4 linked regions of the Homo sapiens genome follow. The protein of the gene in region 3 purifies or fractionates together with the protein of the main gene of each other region. This does not show direct contact. Each region holds a gene or a part of one and is shown on either strand. Other genes may lie near its edges.

What was found.
Region 1: the proteins of FBXL5 (region 3) and CIAO1 purify together in Homo sapiens (affinity purification with mass spectrometry; 3 studies listed by BioGRID and IntAct, with this or other methods). This does not show direct contact.
Region 2: the proteins of FBXL5 (region 3) and MMS19 purify together in Homo sapiens (affinity purification with mass spectrometry; 5 studies listed by BioGRID and IntAct, with this or other methods). This does not show direct contact.
Region 4: the proteins of FBXL5 (region 3) and CUL1 purify together in Homo sapiens (affinity purification with western blotting; 12 studies listed by BioGRID and IntAct, with this or other methods). This does not show direct contact.

Annotation. Positions count from the first base shown.
Region 1 is NC_000002.12:96,269,204-96,274,685, forward strand, and holds the end of CIAO1 (probable cytosolic iron-sulfur protein assembly protein CIAO1), read left to right. Parts: intron 1-64; coding exon 65-152; intron 153-1,907; coding exon 1,908-2,148; 3' UTR 2,149-4,970; downstream 4,971-5,482. UniProt on the Homo sapiens protein: Key component of the cytosolic iron-sulfur protein assembly (CIA) complex, a multiprotein complex that mediates the incorporation of iron-sulfur cluster into extramitochondrial Fe/S proteins.
Region 2 is NC_000010.11:97,495,405-97,502,361, reverse strand, and holds the start of MMS19 (MMS19 nucleotide excision repair protein homolog), read left to right. Parts: upstream 1-3,939; 5' UTR 3,940-3,977; coding exon 3,978-4,089; intron 4,090-6,957. Other genes in the region: UBTD1 (ubiquitin domain-containing protein 1), read right to left, coding at 3,089-3,158. UniProt on the Homo sapiens protein: Key component of the cytosolic iron-sulfur protein assembly (CIA) complex, a multiprotein complex that mediates the incorporation of iron-sulfur cluster into apoproteins specifically involved in DNA metabolism and genomic integrity.
Region 3 is NC_000004.12:15,603,865-15,610,374, reverse strand, and holds the end of FBXL5 (F-box/LRR-repeat protein 5), read left to right. Parts: intron 1-4,575; coding exon 4,576-4,652; 3' UTR 4,653-5,994; downstream 5,995-6,510.
Region 4 is NC_000007.14:148,701,898-148,708,930, forward strand, and holds part of CUL1 (cullin-1), read left to right. Parts: intron 1-7,033. UniProt on the Homo sapiens protein: Core component of multiple cullin-RING-based SCF (SKP1-CUL1-F-box protein) E3 ubiquitin-protein ligase complexes, which mediate the ubiquitination of proteins involved in cell cycle progression, signal transduction and transcription.

The sequences.
Region 1 (5,482 bases), on a different chromosome or scaffold from region 3:
AGGTTCTCCTTTGAGGTGCCCAGGACATAGGAACGTTTAAGGGCAAGAGAAGTCTGTCTTGCAGGGGTGGCATGCAGCGGCTCTGACCCCAGTTGGAAATGTATCTGTACTTTGTCCGGCTTCCACTCAAGGACCATTTATGACATTGCTTGGTAAGACTCCATCCCCCCACCCCATCCCATCCCCATAAATCAGGGATTTTAGAGAAGGCATACCCTATGCAGTCCTCTGCAACCCTGGGGGAGTGCTTGGGAATTGAGGGCAGCCACCCCCATTCCTTATCAGGCCTGACTCTACCATGCTGGTTTACAGCTGGCTGGGCTGGCATTCACAGGAGCAGAGAACAGTCCCAGGCTGTGAGGGTAGCACCAGCGCTAGAGGTTCGCACAGCTCGTGCTGTCCAGAAGTTATTATTGAATCTGCATTCGTGGCTGAGGGTTTTTTTTTGTTTTTTTGTTTTTTGAGACAGAGTCTCACTCTGCAGCCCAGGCTGGAGTGCGGTGGCGTGATCTCATCTCACTGCAAGCTCCGTCTCCCGGGTTCACACCATTCTCCTGCCTCAGCCTCCCAAGTAGCTGGGATTACAGGCGCCCGCCACCATGCCTGGCTAATTTTTTATTTTTAGTAGAGACGGGGTTTCACCGCGTTAGCCAGGATGGTCTCGATCTCCTGACCTCATGATCCGCCCACCTTGGCCTCCCAAAGTGCTGGGATTACAGGCATGAGCCACCGCACCTGGCAGTGGCTGGGGTTTTTATAGGTAACACTGACTCTGGCCTTGTGGAAGCTGGAAAAGCTGCACCATTCATATAGGAGAGTAGGTTAGAGGGTAGTTCTGGCCCTGAGAATTGATCCCTAGGAAATCCAAAACAGTGAAAAAAACTGAGCACTTAAGCTTGCTTTATATTAGCAAACATTTGGGAATCACCTATTCAACAAAAGTGAACTTAAGTAAATTATGGTAGAACTCAGCTTGTTGTATCACTGTTTAAAGAAAGGGGTTAAGAATACTTTATGATGGGGCCAGGCGCTGTGGCTCACGCCTGTAATCCCAACACTTTGGGAGGCCAAGGTGAGTGAATCATGAGGTCAGGAGTTCAAGACCAGCCTGACCAACATGGTGAAACCCCGTCTCTACTAAAAATACAAAAATTAGCTGGGCGTGTTGGCACGCACCCAATCCCAGCTACTCAGAGGCTGAGGCAGGAGAATCGCTTGAACCCGGGAGGCGGAGGTTGCAGTGAGCCGAGATTGCGCCACTGCACTCCAGCCTGGTGATGGAGCAAGACTCCATCTAAAGAAAAAAAAAAAAAACTTTATGATGGCTGGGCCCAGTGGCTCATGGCCTGTAATCCCAGCACTTTGGGAGGCTGAGGCAGGTGGATCACTTGAGGTCTGGAGTTTGAGACCAGCCTGTCCAATGTGATAAAACCCTGTCTCTACTGAAAATACAAAAATTAGCCGGGCATGGTGGCACATGCCTGTAGTCCCAGCTACTCAGGAGGCTGAGGCAGGAGAATCGCTTGAACCTGGGAGGGGGAGGTTGCAGTCAGCCAAGATTGTGCCACTGCACTCCAGCCTGGGCGACACAGCAAGACTCCATCTCAAAAAAAAAAAAAAAAAAACAACTTTATGACATGGGAAACTGCTTATGCCAAGTGAGGAAAGTGCAGTTCATAATTGCATGTCGTTTTTTAGGATAATCATAGTAGGGGAAAGAACTAGATTGCAGCATCTGAAGATATAAGTGGGTGATATTTGTGACTCCTTATTAGTTAAGGAAACATTTTAATAAGAGGTTTTTAGCTGAGGCCTGAAGTTAGGGAAGAGAACAGGCCAGGAACTATGGAACAGGTCTCTCTGGCCTAATTAGTCAGGTATACCCACTGATGTCACTTTCCTTCCAGGTGTCAGCTGACAGGGGCTCTGGCCACAGCTTGTGGGGATGACGCGATCCGCGTGTTTCAGGAGGATCCCAACTCGGATCCACAGCAGCCCACCTTCTCCCTGACAGCCCACTTGCATCAGGCCCATTCCCAGGATGTCAACTGTGTGGCCTGGAACCCCAAGGAGCCAGGGCTACTGGCCTCCTGCAGTGATGATGGGGAGGTGGCCTTCTGGAAGTATCAGCGGCCTGAAGGCCTCTGAGCTACCTCGACTTTGGACAGAGTAATGACTCCCCAGAAAACGTCATATAAGACTTTACCAGCCCCTGAGAGGACCAGGAGGAGCATCCTTGACCTTCATTTAACTTGGCTCACTTCTCTTCAGACTTGGGTAGAAGTGCAGAGCCACAGAATTGCTTTCCTTCCCCGCCTTTGACATGAGGCCTTCAGTAAAGAGCTACAGAACATGAGTACATTGTTATACCACAGATTTTTCTTGCATTAGGGCACAGTGTTAAATTTTTTGGAGGTAAATATACTATTTATAATCACTATATATAGTAGGAGGGGGTATGTGTCTCAGGCTTTTCTGAAGTTGCAAGACTTAAAGAAATAATCCATCTGCATCCCAAGTCCTATTTTATAAGGATATTCATAAAAATTCCATGGTGAATCCTTGTCTGAAATAGGTCCTCCCTTCCCAGTTTCTGTGTAAGTCTTTGCATTTAAGACATCCAATCAATAATGAAGGAAATTTTTTTCTGAATGTAGGTTTGAGTGAGGGGCACCTCTGCTTTCCCTTAGCAACCCTCATATACCTCCCTGCACCGTTACGCTGTGATGGCAACTGGGGATAGAAAAAAAATGGGGAAAGACAGGAATCCTAAAAGGGAGAGTTATTACTGGCCACAAGCCCTGTATTCTCAACAGGGATGCAAATTGGTTCTTCAGTAAGGATAAAAAAAAATCACAAGCAGTTGTTTGTGGCCCTCCTAAGGCCCACAGCACATATAGTGTGTCTGTGATATTCCATTTTCATGGCAGGGAGTGATCAGGAAGAAGGCTTCCTAGGGGACTGGCGATTTAAACCAGTTGAGAAACACTGCCATCAGCAGGCAGTTTCAGACTCACTCAAGTTGTCTCTTGACAGTCACTTCTAAATGGGTTCTAATGTGACAATGGCCTCCAAAACTACAGCCTTCCCTGAAGTTTAAGCTGTGACCTTAGATTTTAGAAGGACAGTGGGGCTGTACCTAGAATAGTGGTTCTCGAAGAATGCGGCCTGCAGATCCTGGGAGTCCCAAGACCCTTTCAGGGAGGATCTGTGAGGTCAACTGTTGGCACTGTGGCATGAATCAAGGTGGTGGCAGCAAACTTCTAGTAGTTTTGATATGTCCTTGATAGAACAAATAGCAATGGTTAACTATTAAATGTTGACCTAGCCAGCGCAGTGGCTCATGCCTGTAATCCCAGCACTTTGGGAGGCTGAGGCGGGCGGATCACCTGAGGTCGGGAGTTCGAGGCCAGCCTGACCAACATGGAGAAACCCCGTCTCTTCTAAAAATACAAAATTAGCTGGGCATGGTGGTGCATGCCTGTAATTCCAGCTACTCGGGAGGCTGAGGCAAGAGAATCGCTTGAATCCGGTAGGTGGAGGTTGCAGTGAGCCGAGATCATACCATTGCACTCCAGCCCAGGCAACAAGAGTGAAACCCTGTCTCAAAAAGAAAAAAAAAGTTGACCTTGAGAATTTATAATATTCTGAGAAAACTGGAAGCATGCATAAAGCCCCTCTGCTGTGCACTGAAGTATGGGTGCCTTGAGGAAAAGCAGTTACACAGTTGAGTTGCAAGCTGAATTGGCTGTGTTCAAGGCATGCCCTTTAGAATTGAAAGAACTAGCAGATTACGGTATTTAGACTTGAATATTTGGCTGATATTTTCTGGAAATTAATGGAATGAGCCTCTCACCTCAAGGGAAACAACTGATAGTGTTGCCAGTGATAAAGCTTTCAAGCAAAAATTGGAATTTCCGAAAATCTGTACTCCACCATGAGCTTTATTGTTGGGGATATTAACAAATGTGATTTGTATAATGAAATGCATTTCATTTGGAAGAATTCAATGAACCATTTTTCCAAGTGACCAGTACGTGATGTTACAAAATCATGCATGGCTCAAAGATTGATTCAAAAGTGTAAGACAGGCCAGTGGATTTTAATGTATTAACAATATAAGAGTGCATTAAGTTTTCGGAGTCTACATTGCCTTTAAGAAACTATGACTTGTAGTAAGCCGGGCGCGGTGGCTCACGCCTGTAATCCCAACACTTTGGGAGGCCAAGGTGGGTGGATCACAAGGTCAGGAGTTCAAGACCAGCCTGGCCAATATGGTGAAAGTCCGTCTCTACTAAAATTACAAAAATTAGCCGGGCGTGGTGGCAGATCCCTTGTAGTCCCAGCTACTCGGGAGGCTGAGGCAGGAGAATAGCTTGAACCCGGGAGGTGGAGGTTGCAGTGAGTCGAGATCGTGCCACTGGACTCCAGCCTGGGTGACAGAGCGAGACTCCATTTCAAAAAAAAAAAAAAAAAAAAAAAATCACTTGTAGTCTTGGTGTGGTATCAAAGAATAGCCACAATTAGCTGAAAAGGCTATTTTAAAAACTTTTCCAACTGCGTATCTGTGTGAAGTCAACTTACTTCAACAAAAAAGTTTGGATGTAGAAGCAGCTGTAAGAATTCAACTGTTTATTATAACAAGATACTAAAGAGACTGTAAAATGCCACCCTTCTCCTTGGATTGTTTTGGAAGTTATTCTTCATAAAAAATGTTAACGTGGGCTGGGCATGGTGGCTCATGCCTGTAATCCCAGCACTCTGGGAGGCTGAGGTGGGCGGATCACTTGAGCTCAGGAATTCAAGGTCAGCCTGGGCAACATGGCTAAACTCTGTCTCTATTAAGAAAAAAAATGTTAACATTATGATTTAAAAGTGCATTAACCTTAATCTAGATAATAAAAGCTTTTTGGGGCAACCTCCAGAACTGTGAAAAATAAATTTGTTATTTAAAAAGAAAAAAAAAAAAACAAAAACCTGAGTTTCTTAGTTTTTAGTAGTGTAAAGAGGTCCTAAGACCAAATCATTTGAAAACTGCTACCCTGAGGAAACTGCCCTTCAGAATCATCTTTCAATTTTGTGTGCATTTAATCTAAAGAACAGAAGGTAAGAATTTGAAGACAGTCGGAAGATCTGGATTAGAAAACCTGTTTATTAAGACTGGGTCACATCCAGCTAGTACATTTCAGTGCCCTTTCTGGTGCTGCCTCCCAGGAGCAGACACTGCAAATTTCAGAACCCCCATCTAGAGAAACCCCTAACCTGTGATCTAGCTTCCGAGGCTCAGTGTTGGTTCTTGTGGTAGTGCTGATGTGTGGGTACCACTGAGGCCAGGCCACAGTCGCATGTACCCTCCTCTGGGCTGACTCACGAGGCTACAGGGGACAGCACACCTAATGAGCAGGTCTGTCCTCCAGACATACTCATTAACAAGCACGTTCCTGGCTAAAAAATAACCAGATCTTTTTGGCCGTGCCCTCAG
Region 2 (6,957 bases), on a different chromosome or scaffold from region 3:
CACAGATGTTACAGGAATGCCAGGTGCACTGTGGAGTTAAGAAGGATTCCTTCCCTTGTACCAAATTTGTCATCCTACAGAGTTCCCCTCGGCTTTGGACTTTATGAATAAAGCTATTCATAGTAGGACCCACAGAACTAAAGCAATGATAAACTAGCAGGTAAAAAAAAAAATGCAGATATATGAAAAATGCAGATGGTAGGATGAAGTTGAGTTTGCTTTCTAAAATCAACAAATACTGAGTGCTACTTCTGTACAACTCATTGTGTTAAGTGCTGAATGTGTGTGTGTGCGTGAGAGAGACATATACTACAAGGATAAGACAGAACCCAGGTCTTCAAGGCTTGCAATGTAGTTGCTGATAAAAGACTGTAAACATCAAAGACATGATTAATAATACAGAGTACATAATTGTTAAGTAAGTGGCATAGATAATGTGTCTGCAGGAGTTCTCAGAAGGAGCAATCACTTCCACGGGGTGTGTGTGGTGGGGTGCGGAGGGAGGGGGAAATGGCAGACTTGTCAGGCAAGGTGCTTCAAACAAGGCACGGCACTTGAAATGAACCCAAAGGATGAAAGACTCTCGATAAGAAGGAAATGGCACGAGCAAACACTGGTGGTCTTAATGTCAGAGAAGGGAAAGAAATCAGGACTTAAAAGAAAGGACTGGCCCACACTTGAACAGCCTTGAAAGTTAAAGTACTTGTAGGAGTGGGAAAATGCAGAAAGGTGTTTTGTTGTTGTTGTTGCTGTTGTTTTGTTTTTTTTTGAGACAGAGTCTCGCTCTGTCACCCAGGCTGGAGTGCAGTGGCGCAATCTCAGCTCACTACAACCTCTGCGAAACTTCCAGTTCAAGCAATCTCCCTGCCTCAGCCTCCTGAGTAGCTGGGATTACAGGCGCCTGCCACCACCATGCCTGGCTAAGTTTTGTATTTTTAGTAGAGACAGGGTTTTGCCATGTTGGCCAGGCTGGTCTCGAACTCCTGATCTCAGGTGATCCACCTGCCTTGGCCTCCCAAAGTGCTGGGATTACAGGCATGAGCCACCACGCCTGGCCAAGTACAGAAACATTCTGAACACAGAACTATAAAATCTGGAAGAAGTTAATTTAACAAATGTCTTCTGTGGGGACAACTGTGTGTAGGACTGAATGATGACTGAAGATGAAGTTGCCTTTGGGGGGTACCTCACTTCAGCCTGAGACAAGGGTTGACTTGAGGTGAGAAGGGTACAAAGTAGGGTGGCAAGGGGCAGGTTTGCAAGTCCCGCGGAAGGAAGACCCAGCAGACCCCAATGACTGGCTGAGAGGCAGGCGACAAGGAAGCAGAGAAAGTCATGAGAGAAAGAGCTCTTCACAGCCTAAAGTTAGGCAGCTGGAAGAACATAAGAGTAAAGAAGGAAAGCTGGTGGACAGGGAGCGATGCAGAGCCTGGTTTTGGAGGTGTTAAATCTGGGAATATCTATATCACAGTGTCCAGTGGGCATCTAGAGATGGGGTTCTGGGGTTCAAGAGAGAAGAGCTGAAGTTTAAGCATAGGGGTATTCCCAATGGACAAAGAGTTGTGGGACTGAACAAGATTTCTCTGGGAGAGAGTGTAATGAGAGAAAAAACAGAATGTCAAACTTAAGCACCAGCGTGCCCCCAAGCTAGAAGGTGATGGTGGAAAGGGGTGTTCAGAAAGGAAAACCAAGACAGTCTGATGCCAAGAAAGGAAGGGGGGGAATGTCTCGTAGGAGAGAGTTGTCAACAGCAAAAAATGCTGCAAAATCAATTATGGGGCCTGAACACATATTTGTTGAACAAATGAATGAATGAAAGCAAGCCAGCCCTTGGTTTTGAGAGTCATCTCTCCTCAGCCAGAAGAATGGCCAGAGTTACCTTCAGACAAGAGAATTTCAATAAGTTTTACTGCATCCTTCCCATAAAAACACATTTCTGCCTCCACAAGTCATCCTGTCCACCATGCAGACATCCTTCCCTGCTTCCCCTGGTTCCCCCATCTTCCTTCCCAGTTTCCGCAACCCAAGCAACACACCTTCGGTGTCAAGGGAGACAGGAAACTCCAACTAGAGTTTCCACTTCATTAACAACTCTGCCTGTGGCTCCTCTTACATAAGGGGATATGTGGCAATGGGGTGGGAGAGGAGGCTGAGTTCTAGCCCCAGGTGAGCTCCTAACTAGCTGTGTGACTTTGGACAAGGTGTTCAACCTCTCAGGATCTGGGCTTTGACACAGAGTAGGAGATGGGTCCATCTGGAATCCAGACAAGTTTGAGCTCTCAAGTCTACGATATTATTCCCAGCGGGTCCTTGCAACACCCTCAAAGAAGGAAGTGAGTGTAAGACCCAGAAAAATGACCGACAGACCTCTTCCCGGGGCGAAATGCCAGGGCAGGCGGGGTGTACCATGAAAGTGAGAAAGCGTTGCGCGGGCCTGGAGGATCACCAGCGAGCGATCTCACTCCCAAAGCTGGGAAGGATCCCAACAATCCCAAGGGTGACTCTCACCCCGCACCCCATCTTTTATAGACTCCCAGACGGCCGAGAGGCTCTAAAAACCCCTGCGGGAAAAATAAAGATTTCTTTCCCAGAGTCCTGCGCTGCTTTGCAAGTCGGATTCCCGCAGACACGATCTGCAGCTCGATAATGACACAGTCTTTGGAAGGAGCGACTGTTCTCGCCTCGCTCGCTCCGAGTTCTGGGGACGCCTGGCTGCCCGCGCCGTGCCCCGACGGGCCGGCGTCCGACCCCGGCCGGAGCTGCCAGGCCAGCGGCGCCCTCGCCCCCGGCCTCCTCCCGATCCGTCGGCCCCGCTGCGGTCTGCAAACATTTCCTGCCCCCACCCCCACCAGGAGCTACCCAGTTGGAGAGAGTTGGTCGCGCAGCCGGCTCAGTGCTCGCAGTTGCCCCAACTCAGCTCCCCCGGCCGCCCGGCGCTGGGGAGCGGCCCCCTCTGGCTGCGGAGCAGCCCATCGGGGAAACCCAAGCGCCAGCACCAGTGGGGAGTCCATCGGTAAGCCCAGGACTCGGGCGAGGAGGGGGACAACTGGCGGGATGCCCGAGGCCCTGCTCCCTTCCCCATCGTTACCTGCTCGCTTGCGGGGGTGTCCCGGGGCTGCCGGCCTCTCCCGGCGCTGTCTCCCCACGCAGTTGCCCATGCTGGCTCCTCAGCCAGTCCCCATGCACCGGAGGCGGCGGGGTGGTCGGCTGCTCAGCGGACGGCGGCGTCCCGGGTCAATGGCTCCGGCCGCCCGGCATCGGGCGCTCCCCGATCTCCCCCCGGGGGCGCGCTCAGCCCCAGCGATGGCTCCGCCAAAACTTTGCGGGCCAGGGGAGAGAGGGAAGTGGCAGACTCCCCAGCACGGTCCCAGGTGGCCGGGCCAGGGGGGCCCGCGACGGTGCCCGGCCGGAGACCAGCTCCGCTGGAGGGGCGGAGAGAGGGGGCGGGCACCGCCGCAGCTACTCCCGGCTCGCTCGGGGCACCAGGCAGGGGCCGGCCCCCTGGAGCCTGTCACTCACCTGCCTAACCCCGCCCCAGGCCGGCCCCTCTCCCTTCCGCCGGCTCGCGGTGCCCGCGCCGCCGCCACCACCCGCCCCAGGTGCGCATGTGACCGACAGCACCGCCCCCTAGGGCTGGGCCTGATTTTCTCATTGGCTTCCCCCGTGGTGCGTACCGCCCCTCTCCCCACCCAGCCAGGTGCCCGCCCCGCAGCCCGTCTCCCGGGGAGCCGGGCTGGGAATTATTCGCCCTCAATCGCCTCCGGCTGCGTGCCCAGCAGCCGCCTTCCCTCTCGGTGCCACCGCCCCATTTCAGGCCCCGCCCCTCCCTGGAACTGCCTAGGCAGAAGCCGGCAGGCACGTGACCCCGGCGCCCCGCCCCCTTGCGCTTCCCCGGAGATTGGCTCGGGAGGCGCATGCGCGGAGAGCCCGTCTCGAGCCACCGCCCATATCCCCTCCCACGGTCTCTAGTTCGCGTTATGGCCGCTGCCGCGGCTGTGGAGGCGGCGGCGCCTATGGGTGCCCTATGGGGCCTCGTGCACGACTTCGTCGTGGGTCAGCAAGAGGGCCCCGCTGACCAGGTGGCTGCAGGTACGGCAGACGGCGCCGCGCGCCTTCCGCATGGGGGCCAACAGGAGGGAGCGGCCTCAGTACAGGCGCCGGGCGGGAAGGGAGGAGCGGGGTGACTTTGAGAGATTGGTCTCAAGGCTGGTTAGTGAGCACCGCGAGGTTCAGAGCCGTAACAAGTTAGAGAGTTGCCTGTGTCTTCCTTAAAACCATTTACACTTCTCATCTCCCTGTAGCCAATTATAGGGAATCATTACATTTTACAGATGAGGAAACTGAGGCTCAGCGAGGGCAAGAGGACTTGCGCAGGGCTGCAGACCAGGCAGGAGGGGGAGGTGGGACTCGGACCCAGGCGTTCAGGTCCGAACCGGGTGCTCACGCCACGAAGCCATGCTGTTTGTGGGAGGTTGACGTGTGGAGGTGCATCCTCGCAGCGTCCGCTCCCGTCGCGTGGCATCCTGGGAGTGGCAGATGGCCCCGCGCTCTGACTGGCTGGAATTAAGAGGAGTTGAGGAGACGGGCCAGGAGGAGCTGGAGATGTTCTGGGTGTCCTCCTTAAGACTTTCTCTCCGTTTCTTGCTAAAGTTCTTGATTAGTTTGCTCCATGACGTTTTATGTGGCGTTTGTTTTTGTCTTCTTCCCAGACCCCCACTTTCCTGCTTTTGACCAGTTCAGAGATCTCTTAGTTCAGACAGCTTATCTAAAATTAGAATAAAACGATTTCCAGGCTTCCGTGGAGTTCTGAGACTTTGCTCTTCTAGGAAAAAAAAAAAACTACTAAAAAGTTATTGAATGTTAGGAGGCCTTCAGATCTTGGGTTTAAGTAACAATATAAAATTATCTAATGAGTAGTTTTTTTAAAAAAACTTTGGAAATTTCGTATGCTTGGAGAGAAGTAAGGACACATTTCTCTTGGATATTGAGCGTATTAACCTTTAGAATATGTAAGAAAAGAATAGTGAATCTGCTAGAAATATAATACTTTGTTCGTTAGCAGTATTCCACTTTAATTCAATCATGCCACTATTGTTGAATACATATTATTCCCCAAACATGATGCAAAGCAATAGGAATATAAATACAAATTAGGTTAGATCTGTGCCCACCAGGAACTTATAGTATGCTGGGAGAGGCAACCATTCTGTAAGAGGTGTGTGCAGCGTAGTTTGGAAGCATCAAGGAGCAAATACCTGGTGCTGCCACCAAACTTAACATCTTACAATTTTATGAAATGTAGTGTGTTATCAGTGTTTACAATTTACAAGTACAGTGTCTTACCAATGTCATTTTCCCTCATATTTTATTATGAAAATTTTCGAATATCCAGCCAAGTATAAAGAATTTTATAAGGAGCACATCACTTAGGATCTATCCTACCATTAACATTTTAATATTACTTGCTTTATCATATAGCTATCCATCCATTTAAATTGCAGATACCTGTACACTTTCCTTTAAATACTTTGGCATGCATGTCATTGACTAGAGTTTGTTGACGGTTTATTTTGATGTAAAATGGAATATATAAACCTTTAAGTGTACGTTCACTGATTTTGACTAATGCATACACCTATACAATCCAACCCCCTACGAAGATATAGAACATTACTATATCAGTGTCATTTGTGATGAGTCTTTCACATTTATGCGATACGAAAACAATAATTTTGGATTTTTTTTTGATTCAGAACATATTTTGAAAAGACATCTTGAATGTCTTATCTTGAATAAGGACTTATCTTGAATAAGGACTGCAAATTCTTCTCTTTTTTTTTTTTTTTTTTTGAGACAAGGTCCCTCTCTGTCTGCCAGGCTGGAGTGCAGTGGTGAAATCATGGCTCACTGTAGCCTCGACCTATGCTCAAGCAATCCTCCTGCCTCAAGCCTCCCGAAGTAGCTGGGACAACAGGGAGTGTGCCACTGCGCTCGGCTAATTTTTGTATTGTAGTGACGAGGTTTCACCATGTTGCCTAGGTTGGTCTCTAACTCCAGGACTGAAGCCATCCTCCCATCTCAGCTTCCCGAAGTGCTGGGATTACAGGCATGAGCCACTGGGACTGCTAAATTCTTACAAACGTTTTTGCAAAATTTATATTTTTGTTTCTTTCTGAAAAAAAATGGTCTAAACTGTTGCTTAATTTGAATTCAACTCAACTGATTTAAGACTGTAACACTAGCCCTGTTGTAATTTAGCCCTCCTAAGAAAAGAAAGTTGGTGGTGGGCACAGTGGCTCACGCCTGTAATGCCAACACTTTGAGAGAACAAGGTAGGCGGATTGCTTGAGCCCAGGAGTTTGAGACCAGCCTGGCCAACATGGTGAAACCCCGCTCTACTGAAAATACAAAAATTAGCCAGGCATGGTGGTGCATGCCTGTAATCCCAGCTACTCAGGAGGCTGAGGCTGGAGAATCGCTTGAGCCTGGGAGGCAGAGGCTGCCGTGAGCGGAGATCGCGCCCCTGCACTCCAGCCTGGGCAACAGAGCGAGACTCCGTCTCAAAAAAACAAAAAGAAAAGAAAGTTGGTACAAAGGAATAGTAACAGATAAAAGTTGAAAAGGTTTGGTAGGGTTGGATTGTGTATAACTTTGGATTCCAGGCAGAGAAATTTGAATGACCTGTTATCTGTACTAAGAGTTGTTGTAGATCCTTGAGCCAGGGAGCCATAAAATGAAAACAAATTTGACAAGGATTAAGTTAATATTGTCAATCTTAGATCACAGCCCTAGTTAGGGTTGTTGAAGGATAACAGAGTGTTGAAGCGTTTATAGAATAAGATGTGCTTTCTAATCTTTCAGCCTAAATCAAGCTTTGTTAGCGCTAAAGGGACCAGCTAGCTTCCTGTTCAGTCACTCAGAGTAGCAGCCTGCAAATTTAAATGCAGAAGGAGCACC
Region 3 (6,510 bases):
GATTTGGGGGAATGGAAAGCCTTTAAAATTTACAGGGTGACTTGTTAAATAACTTGTGTCTGAGTTCCACATAGGTTGTTCTTAAAGCAATGCTCTCTCATAGTCTTTTCCTTAAAAGGATATGTGGACAACCTAGAAAGTGTTAGAAAGAAGTTGTGTTGTATCCAGTTTTGCAAGATGACACTTGTTCCAGTATCTTTCAAAACAGCTCAGCTTGTACAGTAGATATCTAGTGAATGCTCAGGGGCATCCTTGTTACTATTTTTATTATTTCTGAAAGTAGTGTGTTTTAATACGTGGTATTAGAGCAATGGAGAAGTGTATTTAGGTGACAAATTATATTTCAAATATTTGAAAGTGACGTTTAGCTAAAAATATATTTTTTAAAAGAAAACATATATAGTTAACTATCAGGTTACTAAATGTAAAAGAAGTTAATACTGATAAACATTAGTCATTAAGTAATACATGATAAGTAAAGCAGAATGATCTATTTTCCAAGCATTAGCAGAGATTTTGGAGATAATAAGTTAGTTATCATATATTCAAACAGTGCCCAGTACAGTGCAAGACACTGTACATAAAGTGTCTTGATATAAAATGCAAGTCTAGATTCTTCTGAATGATTCTTTATGACTTTTAAATTTATTTGATAAGATTTGAAAAGTCTTCTTAGCCATAACATTAAAAAATTTCTTTAACATTTAAGAAGTGTTAAATGGAATAGCATAGTTGTAGAGCTGTGAAGAACATTTGAGCAATGATAGCAAATAAACTTTTTTACTGATTTGCATTTCAATGTATGTATAATTTATAAATTAAGATAGATTAGCTCATAGTTTTGGAGGTGACACAGTCTCAGATGATGTGCTCTTTTATGTTTCTAATTTAAGTTAAAGAGGAATTAAAGGTAAGTGAAGGTAAGTGCAGATATACAGCATAAGTAATATACTTAGAACTCAGTAAAAACAAGTTATTCAATAATAAAAGTCTGGAGAAATAATAGCTAACCTTATACTTCCTATCATCTGATACTTAAAAATGCTTTCTTATAAGATTATTCTTTACCACGCATTTAAATATTTTAATGATTATTCAATTATATTTTTCTATTTTCTTTATTATTCCTTAATGTAATTTAGGCTTTATATATCTTAACCATTTGGGTTCTGTGTCCTACATCGAGATGGAAGTTTGCTGGTGATAAGTCAAATATTTAAAGGGAACTACCTTGTGAATTATCTTCGTCTGTTAAAGCATAGCTGTCTACCTGGCAATCCATCATATCTTAGTCATATTTCTTTCTAGTTTTCCCTCACCTTTTCTGTTGTCCATTTATTCTGTTGTCCATTTATTCACTTCTCTGAACAGTCCTTCTGTGTTACTTAAGGATTTTATTGTTAATGTTGCTTATACTTTCCATGCTTTGGAAGGTGTTAGTCTCCTGTTTTCTACAATGTGATACTGAGTTTAAAACAGTGCTTGTCTTCATTTTTGTTTTGGCTCAGGCCTTCAGCAGATCCTTTAATGGGTGCTGTCACTTTCATGATTATTGGGATCAAATACCAGTAACTACTCTTATTATTTACCTTATCATAGGATTGTAGTTTTGAGTCATTTAATACTATAGTTACTGATTAAGTTCATATAGCCTTCTTTAAACAGATTCTGCTTTCAAATTTGAAAACAATATATTCTCTCTCTTCACTCTGTATACTTAGAATCTCACTGAAACTCAATTCTGGTGAACTTAAAATGTATTCAGAGTTCTTGCCTATATTCATATAAAATGTGTCTACTCACTGAGTAGACACATTTTATATGAATATAGGCAGGAACTTTGTTTTGTGATAAATAAGGAGATGCTGACAGTAGGTTTGTGCTTTTTACCTAATACAGGGTAAAAACTTTTATTTCTACATTTTTCTTCCCCCATTATCTCTGCCACCATCCCTTAGACTTCAGGAGCATAATGACCCAGGTAGCTAGGGTGGAAACTGAGCATGTGGACCCTACATCTTTTGGGGAGGGTGGTGAAAAACTGTGTCATGTCAGGTTAGATCTGAATCTCTAGGAGAATAGCTTTTTTGATCTGTTTGCTCCTTTGAGTCTCCCTTTTACTTTATCCTTTGAAAACCAATTGCATACTTCACTTCCATTGCTTCCAGATATGGCATATTTTTCTTAGGCTACTGTTGAAATTTAGCATAATATTTCTCCCTTACCTTTCTGTCCTTTTAAAAAAATAGGACTATAGTAAGTCCTCCGTGTCGGTGGTATGTTTTTGGAAACTGACTTTAAAGAAAACATACAGGAAGTCCTCAAATAGTGTCATTTCATTATAATGATGCAAACAAAACAACTACCTTTGTTATACGTTATTTTGCTTAGAGTCGCAGTTTCTAAGAACCTATCGATGTTAAGTGAGGACTTAATGGTATAGACATTTTGAAATATTTGAGGGAGTTGCAGTTTGGAAAAATTGTATAGAGTCTTCATGTCTCTTCTTATTTCTTTAAAAAAATTTAGAATGGAATTTTAATCTGATAAAATGATAATCAGATCCATTTTGGCAAAACCCAGTGAATCTGGCATTTCATGATGGACCTAAGGGTCAGAGCAGGAGAATGGCAGTGAGGCAGGGCTTGTGTCTTGAGGAGAGGCACTAGGTGATTGGTAGACAAAACAGTGGGCAGTGTAAGGGGTGAGGAAAGACAAGCTAAGAAGGGGAATAATGGGGATTGGGTGGTGCACAGTGGGTAAAGCTGGCATTATATTCAAAGGAAAAACTTGGTTAAAGATTGGCAGTGGGAGAAGAATTTCAGATCATAGGGTTGCTTCTCAGGGCATTTTTAATAAGTATTCAATATATACTAAAACATTTTATCTTGAGTTTGTGATTAAGATGATTAACATTGTTTCTTATTTTAAGGGAAAATAATTTTAACAAAATGCTGCTTTGTGAATTTTAAATATTTAACATATTTAACTTCTCATTTAAAGACCAGAAAAGATTGTTATTTTGATTAAATAAAAATTGGCTTTAGTAATTCAACTTTATATTTAAAATAATTTTAAACTTCCTGTTATGGAAAAATTTAACATCGAATAATACAACGAATCCTCATGTACCATCAGCTTCAGCAGTTATAAACCTGTGGGCAGTCTCCTTTCATCTATACCATTGCTCATTCCCATATCTACTCCGCCATTAAGCTAATCACAGGTGTCATATCAACTTAAAAATTAATATGACTGAAAGCATAAGCTGTTGTAGTTCCACATATTTGCGTAATGTTTATTAGTTTCTTTCCTAAGACTGTATGTCTTAAGAAATTTGCCCTTTGTATTTTGTATGTGCCATTTGGGGAATATAAGGAAAAGTTAAATTTCTGGAAATTAATGTGTTCTATGTGTTTAGTTGGAAGTAATTGTTATGGTAGTATTAGCTTACTTGCTTTTTTGTTGTTGTTGTTGCAGCCGAGTGCTGTTTTAGAAAATAAAAAGTAAATTTAAAATGTGTTTTTGAGTTAAGCTAGATATCACCCCAGAGTACTGTGATTTTTCAGTTACAATCCATTTGATATATTCTGCAGTAAAATTATATTTCATGTACAGTTTTCATTTTGTATTGTTCCTTATATCACAATTGCAAGTATTTTGGTTGTTCTTGTTGATATGTAAAGAACAAATTAACTACTCCTTATTTGTTCATGGTATAGACATAATGAAAGACTTCAATATAGTTGAAACAATCTTTTCCACATTTGCCTGCTTTTATGAAAATATCATTCATTCAGAGTACTTGACATTTGAATATGTGCTGTGAAACTTCTTCTTTGATATTTTCTAATTCTCAGCTATGTTCCCTAATGGGTCTTGTATCTAGTGCCTGGGTAGCATAGTGTGACTGGGATAAAATGTCAGTTATTCCACAGATTTTTTTTTATTCTTTGTAAGTGAATGATAATTTTTACTATGGCTACAGTTTAATTGATCACTCATTATATATTTAATTTTGGAAAATAATTTCATCTAACCCTACCATATATAGATATTTTTGGCTACAAATACTAAATAAAAATATGGCAAATATATTAAATCTTTGTCTATATAGTTTATTTTGCTTTAAAATTTGAAGATAATATTTATTGTAATTGCTCAATACTGACTTCTTTAGCTGATCGATTATAGTTAGGGCTGTTTTTTGCCTTTATTACATTTCTAGGGAGGATGTTCAGATTATAAGAATCTTTTTATAAGTTAGCTTGGCAATCTTGCTTCTGTGGATTGTCTCATTTCCATTTTGGATTTTTATATTGTAAGTTGTTGCTAAAAATTATTTTTTTCCCTTCTTCCACTTACCTTTTGGACCATGAAGGATATATTAATTAAAGTCAAGCTGCTATTGAGTTTTGTGTCTGAATAATTTCTTATACACTTATCATGAGATTTACTTCTATCATATAAGTACTGCTAGTAAAACCAATGAATGTTTAACTCCTTCATAAGCAAAATTATTTTTATGTGATCTCTAAGAAATTCCTCCTTTCACATTTTTCTGTTTTCATACAGGTCCTCATGCTGATACCGCCAGTGGATGCCAGAATTTGCAGTGTGGTTTTCGAGCCTGCTGCCGCTCTGGCGAATGACCCTTGACTTCTGATCTTTGTCTACTTCATTTAGCTGAGCAGGCTTTCTTTCATGCACTTTACTCATAGCACATTTCTTGTGTTAACCATCCCTTTTTGAGCGTGACTTGTTTTGGCCCCATTTCTTACAACTTCAGAAATCTTAATTTACCAGTGAATTGTAATGTTGTTTCTCTTGCAAATTATACTTTTGGTTTAGAAAGGGATTAGGTCTTTTCAAAAGGGTGAGAACAGTCTTACATTTTTCTTTTAAATGAAATGCTTTAAAGAATGTTGGTAATGCCATGTCATTTAAAGTATTTCATAGATAATTTTGAGTTTTAAAGTCCATGGAGGTGATTGGTTCTCTTTACACATTAACACTGTACCAAGCTTTGCAGATCTTTTCCGACACACATGTCTGAAGACTTATTTTCAAAGACAGCACATTTTTGGAAACTAATCTCTTTTCCGTAATATTTCCTTTATTTCAATGATTCTCAGAAGGCCAATTCAAACAAACCCACATTTAAGGTTCTTTAGGATTATAGAATAAATTGGCTTCTGAGTGTTAGCTCAGTGAGCTAGGAAAGCACCAATCGATATTTGTTTCCTTTAGGGATACTTTGTTCTCACCACTGTCCCTATGTCATCAAATTTGGGAGAGATTTTTTAAAATACCACAATCATTTGAAGAAATGTATAAATAAAATCTACTTTGAGGACTTTACCAAGTAATACTGTTGTGTTGTGATTTTTATTATAAATCTCAATCCAGGTTTACTTTAGTATAGAATAGGACTACATACTTTGTCTTTGGACCTCCCATGAACTTATTACCCTGACAAATAGTTTTAGACAGATACTGAATTTTATTGAGCTGAATTTTCTTTTTGAAATGAGTTATTCAGTAGTCAAAATTTGAATCCGTAAGTATATCTACTTTGCTTTGTTAAAACATCATGAGAGTGGAGGCCTGCCACCCAGAAAGGCACATACTAGTGCCTTTTAGTACAATTTTATGTCATGTAGAAGAAAATGGCAATGTTCCTCCTATTGATACAGATACAGGCATATGTCATCTTATTGCGTTTTGCTTTATTGCACTTTGCAAATAATGCATTTTTTACAAATGGAAGGTTTATGGCAACTCTGCGTTGAGCCAGTCTATTGGTGCCATGTTTCCAATAAAACTTCTCCTTTCATGTCTCGTATATTGTGATAATTCTTGGAGTATTTCATAGTTTTTCACTATTATTAAATCTGTTGTGGTGATCTGTGGCCAGTGATTGTTGTTACTATTGTAATTGCTTTGGAATGCCATGAACTGTGCCCTAATAAGACAGAGAACTTAATTGATAAATATTATGTATGTTCTGATTGCTCCACTGACCAGTGGTTCCTGTCTCTCTCCTCCTCAGACCTCCCTCTTCCTAGAGACACAACAATATTGAAATTAGGCCCCAGCTTATAACCTTGCAGTGGACTTTAAGTGTTGAAGTGAAAGGAAGAGTCATGTCTCTCACTTTAAGTGAAAAGCTAGAAATGATTAGGCTTAGTGAGCAAGGCATGTCGAAAACTTAGGCCCAAATCTACGCTTCTTGTGCCATACAGCAAAGTTGTGAATGCAACAGGAAAGTTCTTGAAGGAAATTAAAAGTGCTACTCCAGTGAACACCCAATGATAAGAAAGTGAAACAGCTTTATTACTGATATGGAGAAAGTTTTAGTGGTCTGGATAAATGAAACTAGCCATAAAATTCCCTTAAGCCAAAGCCTAATTCAGAGTAAGACCCTAACTCTCTTCAATTACATGAAGGCTGAGAGAAGTGAGGAAGCTTCAGAAAAGGTTGAAGCTAGCAGGGGTTGATTCATGAGGT
Region 4 (7,033 bases), on a different chromosome or scaffold from region 3:
AGTCATTCTGGAATAAAATGTCTTTGGGGGACTGTCAGCTTCATTTTGAACTTGTCTTTTAGGTATGTCTGGAGAAAAGAGTGTTAACCATTTTAAGGGCCAATTCTAAGGTTGCCTTGCTTTTTAAAAACATTTGGTAGTTTATCAGTGTGTTTGTTTTGCTTCCAAATGAAGAAATGAGCATTAAATGAAAAATAGATCCTATTTGGATAAAAGCCTTATGTTTACTACTGAGGACATAATTTCCTGTTTATAGGAGGTTTCCTGTTTATAATATGAAGATTTAGTAAACACACTATAAACAGAATTATTATAACATTTAATGACTTAAGTTTTTTATTCACTCATGGAGGTGTTTCATTTCTAAAAATTCCGTGAGGGAGAGAGATTGAAGTCATTTATTTTTGCTTAGGTATAGAACATCTTGCTTGGGAGAGAAGACATGGAGTCTAGTTCAAGCTTACCTTTGCAGGGCATATATTTCCTCGTTTTTAAAATGAGATGGTTTTTAATTGACACTGTTGATTTCCTTAGGCCCCGAAAGTATGTGGATTCCATGGGAATGCCACAGCTTTTAACATTAACAGGATTTTGGAAAAACGGTCTTAAAGAACATTAAGTATTGTATTCATGTTTAAAAAGCAGGGTTGTGAAGCCTAAGTTTGATAGTTAAATTTTTTCCCTTGGGAAACTTGGACCAAGTAAGCACTGGTCTGCCTTTCCTAGTGTTGACTCCATGCTTCAGCGCTATTGCAGTTCCATTCTGGATCTGACTCTTTGCCTTTTCTATCACCTGACGGCTCACACATCACCATCTCTGGAAAGCTGGCCCTGATGTCCTGGTCTGGGTTAGGAGCCTTCTCTGGGTTCCCATGTTGTCCTGCCTATGTCACTATCACAGTATTTAACCTTTTGATTGTAGTTGGTGGTTTCTCCCACCAAACTGACCTCCTTTGGGACAGGGACACTGTGATATGCATCTGTCCCCAGTGCCTAGCATACTGCATGCATCAACATTCACATACATCCTTCCACTGGAAATCTTTACAGTGCCCTCTGAAGTGTGGGTACTATGGTTTAACCCACTTTACAGAATATAGGTGAAGGAGCTGAGACTTTGAGTGGTGCAGGTAAGGGCTAGGAAGGTAGTCAAGCCCGAGTTAAACGGGACAGGATAACTCCGGAGCTCAGGCTTTTAACCAGATGTTCCCTGAGTGTTTGACTAGTTTATGTGAAGATGGAAGAAGACTAGAAGAGATTAAAATGAAAATGCTTTAAGGACTGATATCTGATCATTATGGCAGAATTCATTATGCAGAACTGTGATCCACTACCAAGAATGAGCTTATTCTTCCTGGTCTTTTAGTAACATTGTGGGAGAGTAATTGGGCACTGATAGCATAGACACGAACAGTTCTGGAACTTTGGGGCTATTGTTAAATTGGGTGTGATGTTATGACTCATTGGCCTTGCAAAAATTTATAAAACCATTCAAGACTGTTCAAATATAACAAGCTGCAATTTTTTTAAAGGTCTGTGTTAGAAAATACTTCGGAAAATAGATTGTATGAAATGGGTGCAGCCATTTAAAATATGTATAAAGTGTGTATGTACTAGTGAAGGTTTTTTTGTTTTTTGTTTTTTGTTTTTTTTGAGACAGAGTCTCACTCTGTCGCCCCCACTGGAGTGCAGTGGCGTGATCTCGGCTCACTGCAACCTCCGCCTCCTGGGTTCAAGCGCTTCTCCTGCCTCAGCCTCCCGAGTAGCTGGGATTACGGTGCCTGCCACTACACCCAGCTAATTTTTTGTATTTTTAGTAGGGACGGGGTTTCACCATGTTGGCCAGGCTGGTCTCAAACTCCTGACCTCGTGATTCACCTGCCTTAGCCTGCCAAAGTGCTGGGATTACAGGCGTGAGCCACTGCGCCCGGCCGTGAGGATATTTAAAGTAGTAAAAATGGCTGTCATTTTAGGGGGGTAAGCTTGGGTGCTTTTAAAATATTTTTTCAAGAAAAAATTTAAGAACCAAAAAGTAACAGCATGGCGATCTCAAGATGGAGAAGACCTAGATATAACACCAAGCACGGGAACTGTAAAGGAAAAGATTTGAGTACTTTAGAATAATAAAACTTCTCTGTGTTAAAATTCCATAAACAGAATTAAAAGGTGACTGGCAAACAGAAAAATATTGTAACTTACAAGCAAATTTACTTTCCTTACTGTAAAAAGAGGGCATGTGAACACCACCAACAAAAGCGGCCCCCCCCCACCCCCGTGGAAAAAAATGGGCAAACTGGTAATTTATAAAAAGAGGAGCAGGAAACATGAAAAAACTTTCAGCTTTACTAGCAGTACTCCCAGAAATGCAAATCAGTGAGATACTGTTGTTGTTTTTTTAATTGGCGTAGATTAAAAAATGAACTACTTATGGTGAAGGTATGGAGAAATGAGCTCACTCATACCTTGCTAGAAAGAGTGTAATTTAATATGATTTTTTGAGAGCAAAGTACGTAACAAAAGCTTGTAAAATATGTATGTGCTTTGAAATAGCTATTCCATTTCTAAGAATTTAGTCTAAGAAAATACAAAAAAAATGACTACTAGATTAATATTCTGTCCAGGGTGTGCTGTTATTTAACTAATACCCTCTTAAGCATTTGTTTTCGTTTTTTTGCTGTTGTTAAGGATGATTATTTCAGCATTTAGATCAATCTTTAACTTCCATAATACTGTATTTAATGAACATTTAGTTAGTATTAATGATAAAATGCAACATAAAACAACATATGTAAGTAATAGCTAAACTTTATTTTGGTGTGTGAGTATATGCATTTTTTAAAAAGATGAAAACCAGAATGTTAGCATTGATTGTCTCTGAGCAGTGGAGTTATTTTTAGTTTCTCTTAGCAGTAGGTTATTATTTTTTTTTTCCTCCAACTTTCTACAGTGCACATATATTTATAGTACAGTGGATTAATTTATAAAATCAAGAAATCCCAAAACAGGAGAAGCAGGGGAGCTACTTGCAAGGAAGACATTTCTGCTTAGTTTAATGCTGAAATCACTTAGTGTTTGCCGTACTGGCAGCCCCTTTCCAGGTGTGTTGATGCACAGGGTTAAATATCTGACTTCCGTTGGGCTGTATTTCCAGCGGTCAGGTTCTCCTTTGCTGGACTAATCTTCTTCTCATTTATTTCCCCATATCTTAATCCTTCAGATACTTTAGTCCCCTCATTTAATGCCCTCCATGAAACTGTCCTAATCTCATGAAACTGATTGATGTTTTGATGGTTTATTGTAACACTAGATTAGGTACTAATGAATTGTCTTCAGTGTGGAAGTTTCTTTTTTTTAGTAATAGTGTGAACTTTTTTTGCTTAGTTCACAACTCCTAGTGATAGTAGATGTGTTTTAAATTAATCTTTAAACTTAATGTCATTATGCTTAAGATAAGAATTTGCTAAAAATTAGAAAAAGTATTTTGGTCTAGTTTCTGCAGTAGCTTGGAAAATTCAGAGGCTACCATCAATTATTTAAGAAGTGTATGCTAAATAGTACAAATGAGGAATACTGTTGTAATTATGAGAAAACCGTTGCACAGAAACGTGTCACCTAATGCTGGGAGGGGGCACCTTTGCTATGTCGAAATTAATTAAATGCTAACTAAAATAGTTACGTGTGCCTAATAGGCATCCGAAAGTCAGAACGGGGGAAAAAGGCTGACAGCTCAGACCTCCTTTTCTCAAGGCAGGAAGGAGGCTTTGGTGAGACTGGAAGGAAAGGTTTGGAATCCTAGATGATGTCAATAAACCAGACTCTTTGATCCCAAGTGGAATTCAGGGAATAGACATGAAGACTAGGCCATTTCCCCCTCCCCAAACTTCAAGCTTATCTATAGGAACTTGGAGACTTTGGTGTGGGGGATGGTGGAGAAGAAAAATTCCAGACTGATTCTTCTGACTTCTCTCATTTTAAATACGTAAAATCTTTAAAACGTTTGCTTGCCATTTTATCTTACATGCAATAATAACCCTTAGTCTAGGTTGAGCATCCCTAATTTGAAAATCCTAAATCCTCCAGAATCTAAAACTTCCTTAGTTACCAACACGATGTGACAAGTGGATCATTTCACCCCGACCTCATGTGATGGGCCACGGTCAACATGCAGGTGCACAACAGTTTATTCAGTGTCCCCAAGGGGAAAGTAAAATTACCTTCAGGCTGTGTGTATAAGGTCTATATGAAACATGTGAATTCCCCGTTTAGATTTGGATCCCATCCGCAAGATACCTCAAATATTCCAAAATATGAAACAGTCTGAAATTCAAAAGACTTCTGGACCCAAGCATTTCAGATAAAGGATACTCAATTTGTGTTCAGTGCTTGGTATGAGCCAAAGACTGTGCCGAGCTTGCTTTGTGACTCCCTAGCTGCTTGCCCTCAGCTTTCTGCTGCTTGGAGATACCTCAAATGGGACAGAAGGCTGTCTAATGCAGTCCTGGTTGAGGATGGACTTTGACACACAGCATGGGAATATATTACATCAATCATAAAGTAGAGACTACTGAAATGAGAGGGTCTCCTATTTGATGTGTTGATGAAAGGCTACTTGGGCATCTGTGTAGAGTAGGTCCTACCAACAAGGGACTCAAAACACACAAAGGGAAGAAGGGTTAGGAATGCTGAAGACACATACTGAAATTGGCTCTTCAGTAGTGCCTTTGTTACATGTTCTATATATAGGGGACTTTGCCCTATACAGGGTATGTGTGTTGGGGGTGGGGGCGGCGGGGGGCGGGGTGGGTGTTTAATGTCTGCAGTTTAGCTGGGGCTTTACAGGTGAAACGTACTGTATGTGTTCTCTCGACATTATGAAGATTTTGTTTGTTTTGGTCACTGGTATTTTTATAATGGAGCTCTGCCTTACTACTCTACTTGTTTTACTGCATTTTCAGGATTTTTATTTAGGCCAATATTTGGCTGTCTGTGTTCTGTGATATGTAAGGTATGGGAATAGGAGGGAAGATCTGTGAATAAACGTAGGAAATGCCAGGTGGCATATTGAAGGGCCTTTAAAATCTTAATTTGTTTTGCTGCTGTTACAGGGAGATATATCTTATAGGGTATGTATATATGTATACATACCTACATTCATATATATTAAAAGGTCCACTCCTAATTTAATAAGAAATTACCTTTGAAGGAAGAAAACTCCCCTACCATATTAACATGTTTTGTAGAACACATACTGATTTTAAAATCATCGAATGTGGAAAATTAGGTCTTTACAGTAGAGATTTGATATGGAGTGAATTGATGTGTTCATTTTTTTCTCTTGGAACGAGCACCTGGAAATATTCGTGGTTCTTTGTAGCACAGTGTGGGAAGTGCCATAGAGGCCAGGATCCTAATGAGTATGGTTATAAGTTTAGTGTCTAGAAATAATTTTTGCTTCACCCTAGTCCTTGTTTAAATCCTAAATACTATCAGAGGAATTATATTAAAAAAATTTTAAAGCATATGGGAGACAACACAATCAAAGCCTGTGTCATTTACATGTTATTGGTGGTGTCATGTTGAGATCACTTTTTATTTTTTTAAATAATAATTTTTTTTTTAAGTTTCAGGGTACCACAGGTTCGTTACATAGGTAAACGTGTGCCATGGTGGTTTGCTGCACCGATCAACCCATCACCTAGGTATTAAGCCCTGCATACATTAGCTGTTTTCCCTGGTGTTGGTCCCCACACCTTCCCTGACAGGCCCCAGTGAGTGTTGTGCCCTTCCCGGTGTCCATGGAGAACACTTTTTAAACCTGTAAAATAATGGTTTAACTACAAAGTTGTTTCACATTTTTTCTTTAAAAATCTAAAACTTCCTGGGTTTTAAAAGCATCTCAATACTTCTCTTGAAGGCACTCTTAGATTTGTACTTGATTCATTAGATTGGTTCTCTTGCATTTCCAATTCATGGTTTCCAGAGGGTGAACGCTGTTCTCAGGATGTCTTGCGTTAGAGGAGTTTAGGAAGCATCACCAGGTCTGTTCTCCAGTGTCCCCTTCTGAGTAGGGGCCACATCGCTCATTTCCCAGACTTGTGGACCAGGTTACCTTTCTTTTTTCTTGGGTGACCTCCTGAGGTTAGGGTTCTGTGCAGAATACTTGCTGTTCCAGTTCATCTTATCTTTTCTAACTCTTCATGAGCATTCAGGAGATAGCTTTAACTTGATCCTCTCTTCTAGTCTTTTTTGCTTTGTGGTTTCTCAGTTTTTTCAGGTTAAGCAATTCTCAGCAACTTCAGCTGAGAGCCTTGCAGTCCTGCTAATAGCCTTCAGGGCTTTTGCATTTGACTAACCTGGCCTTTCTTCCAACTTGGCTTGCCCCAAACTGATCTCTTTTTTGCTCCCTAGACCATATCCGACATCTCTATTTCTAGCGTTGTGTCAGAGACACAGATTTCAGACTTGACTTCTTTTGTTTGTCCATATTCAGTGATCTACCAAATCTTACTAGTTCCTCCCCCATAACACTATGTGTTTATACCTTCCTCTTTGGCCCCGCTGTCACCAGCTTCATTCTGCCCTCACGCCTGGCGATGCAGTGCGCTGCTGATTGCTGCTTCATTCAGGACTTGCCTGGCTTCCTTGATTACAGAGGCTCTCCAGGGCAGGTATTGGGCTGCTAGCATTTGATAGAGTGGGCTCTGCTCTTTGTCTTTGCAGCCCTTTGCCACAACCATCCTATCTCATCTTCATAAGCTTAAAAAAATCCTGAAAATCTAGCTGTGTGTATCATGCTAACATGCTTTTTAAAAAAACTGGCTCTGCTGCAATTTTCACTTGAAAGTAGCTGGATGTTGGTTCTGGGTATTTGTCTCTATCTCAGCTCTTCAAACTGGGAATGTGATTTCTAGTAACAACATTTAGCAAAATTTCAACAAAGCAACCAATTTGCGGAAGTTGTGTTAACTTTGAGGTTTTGCCATAATAAATTATAAATGTTGGAATTTTTCTATTGATAAGGCTAACTTGTGGA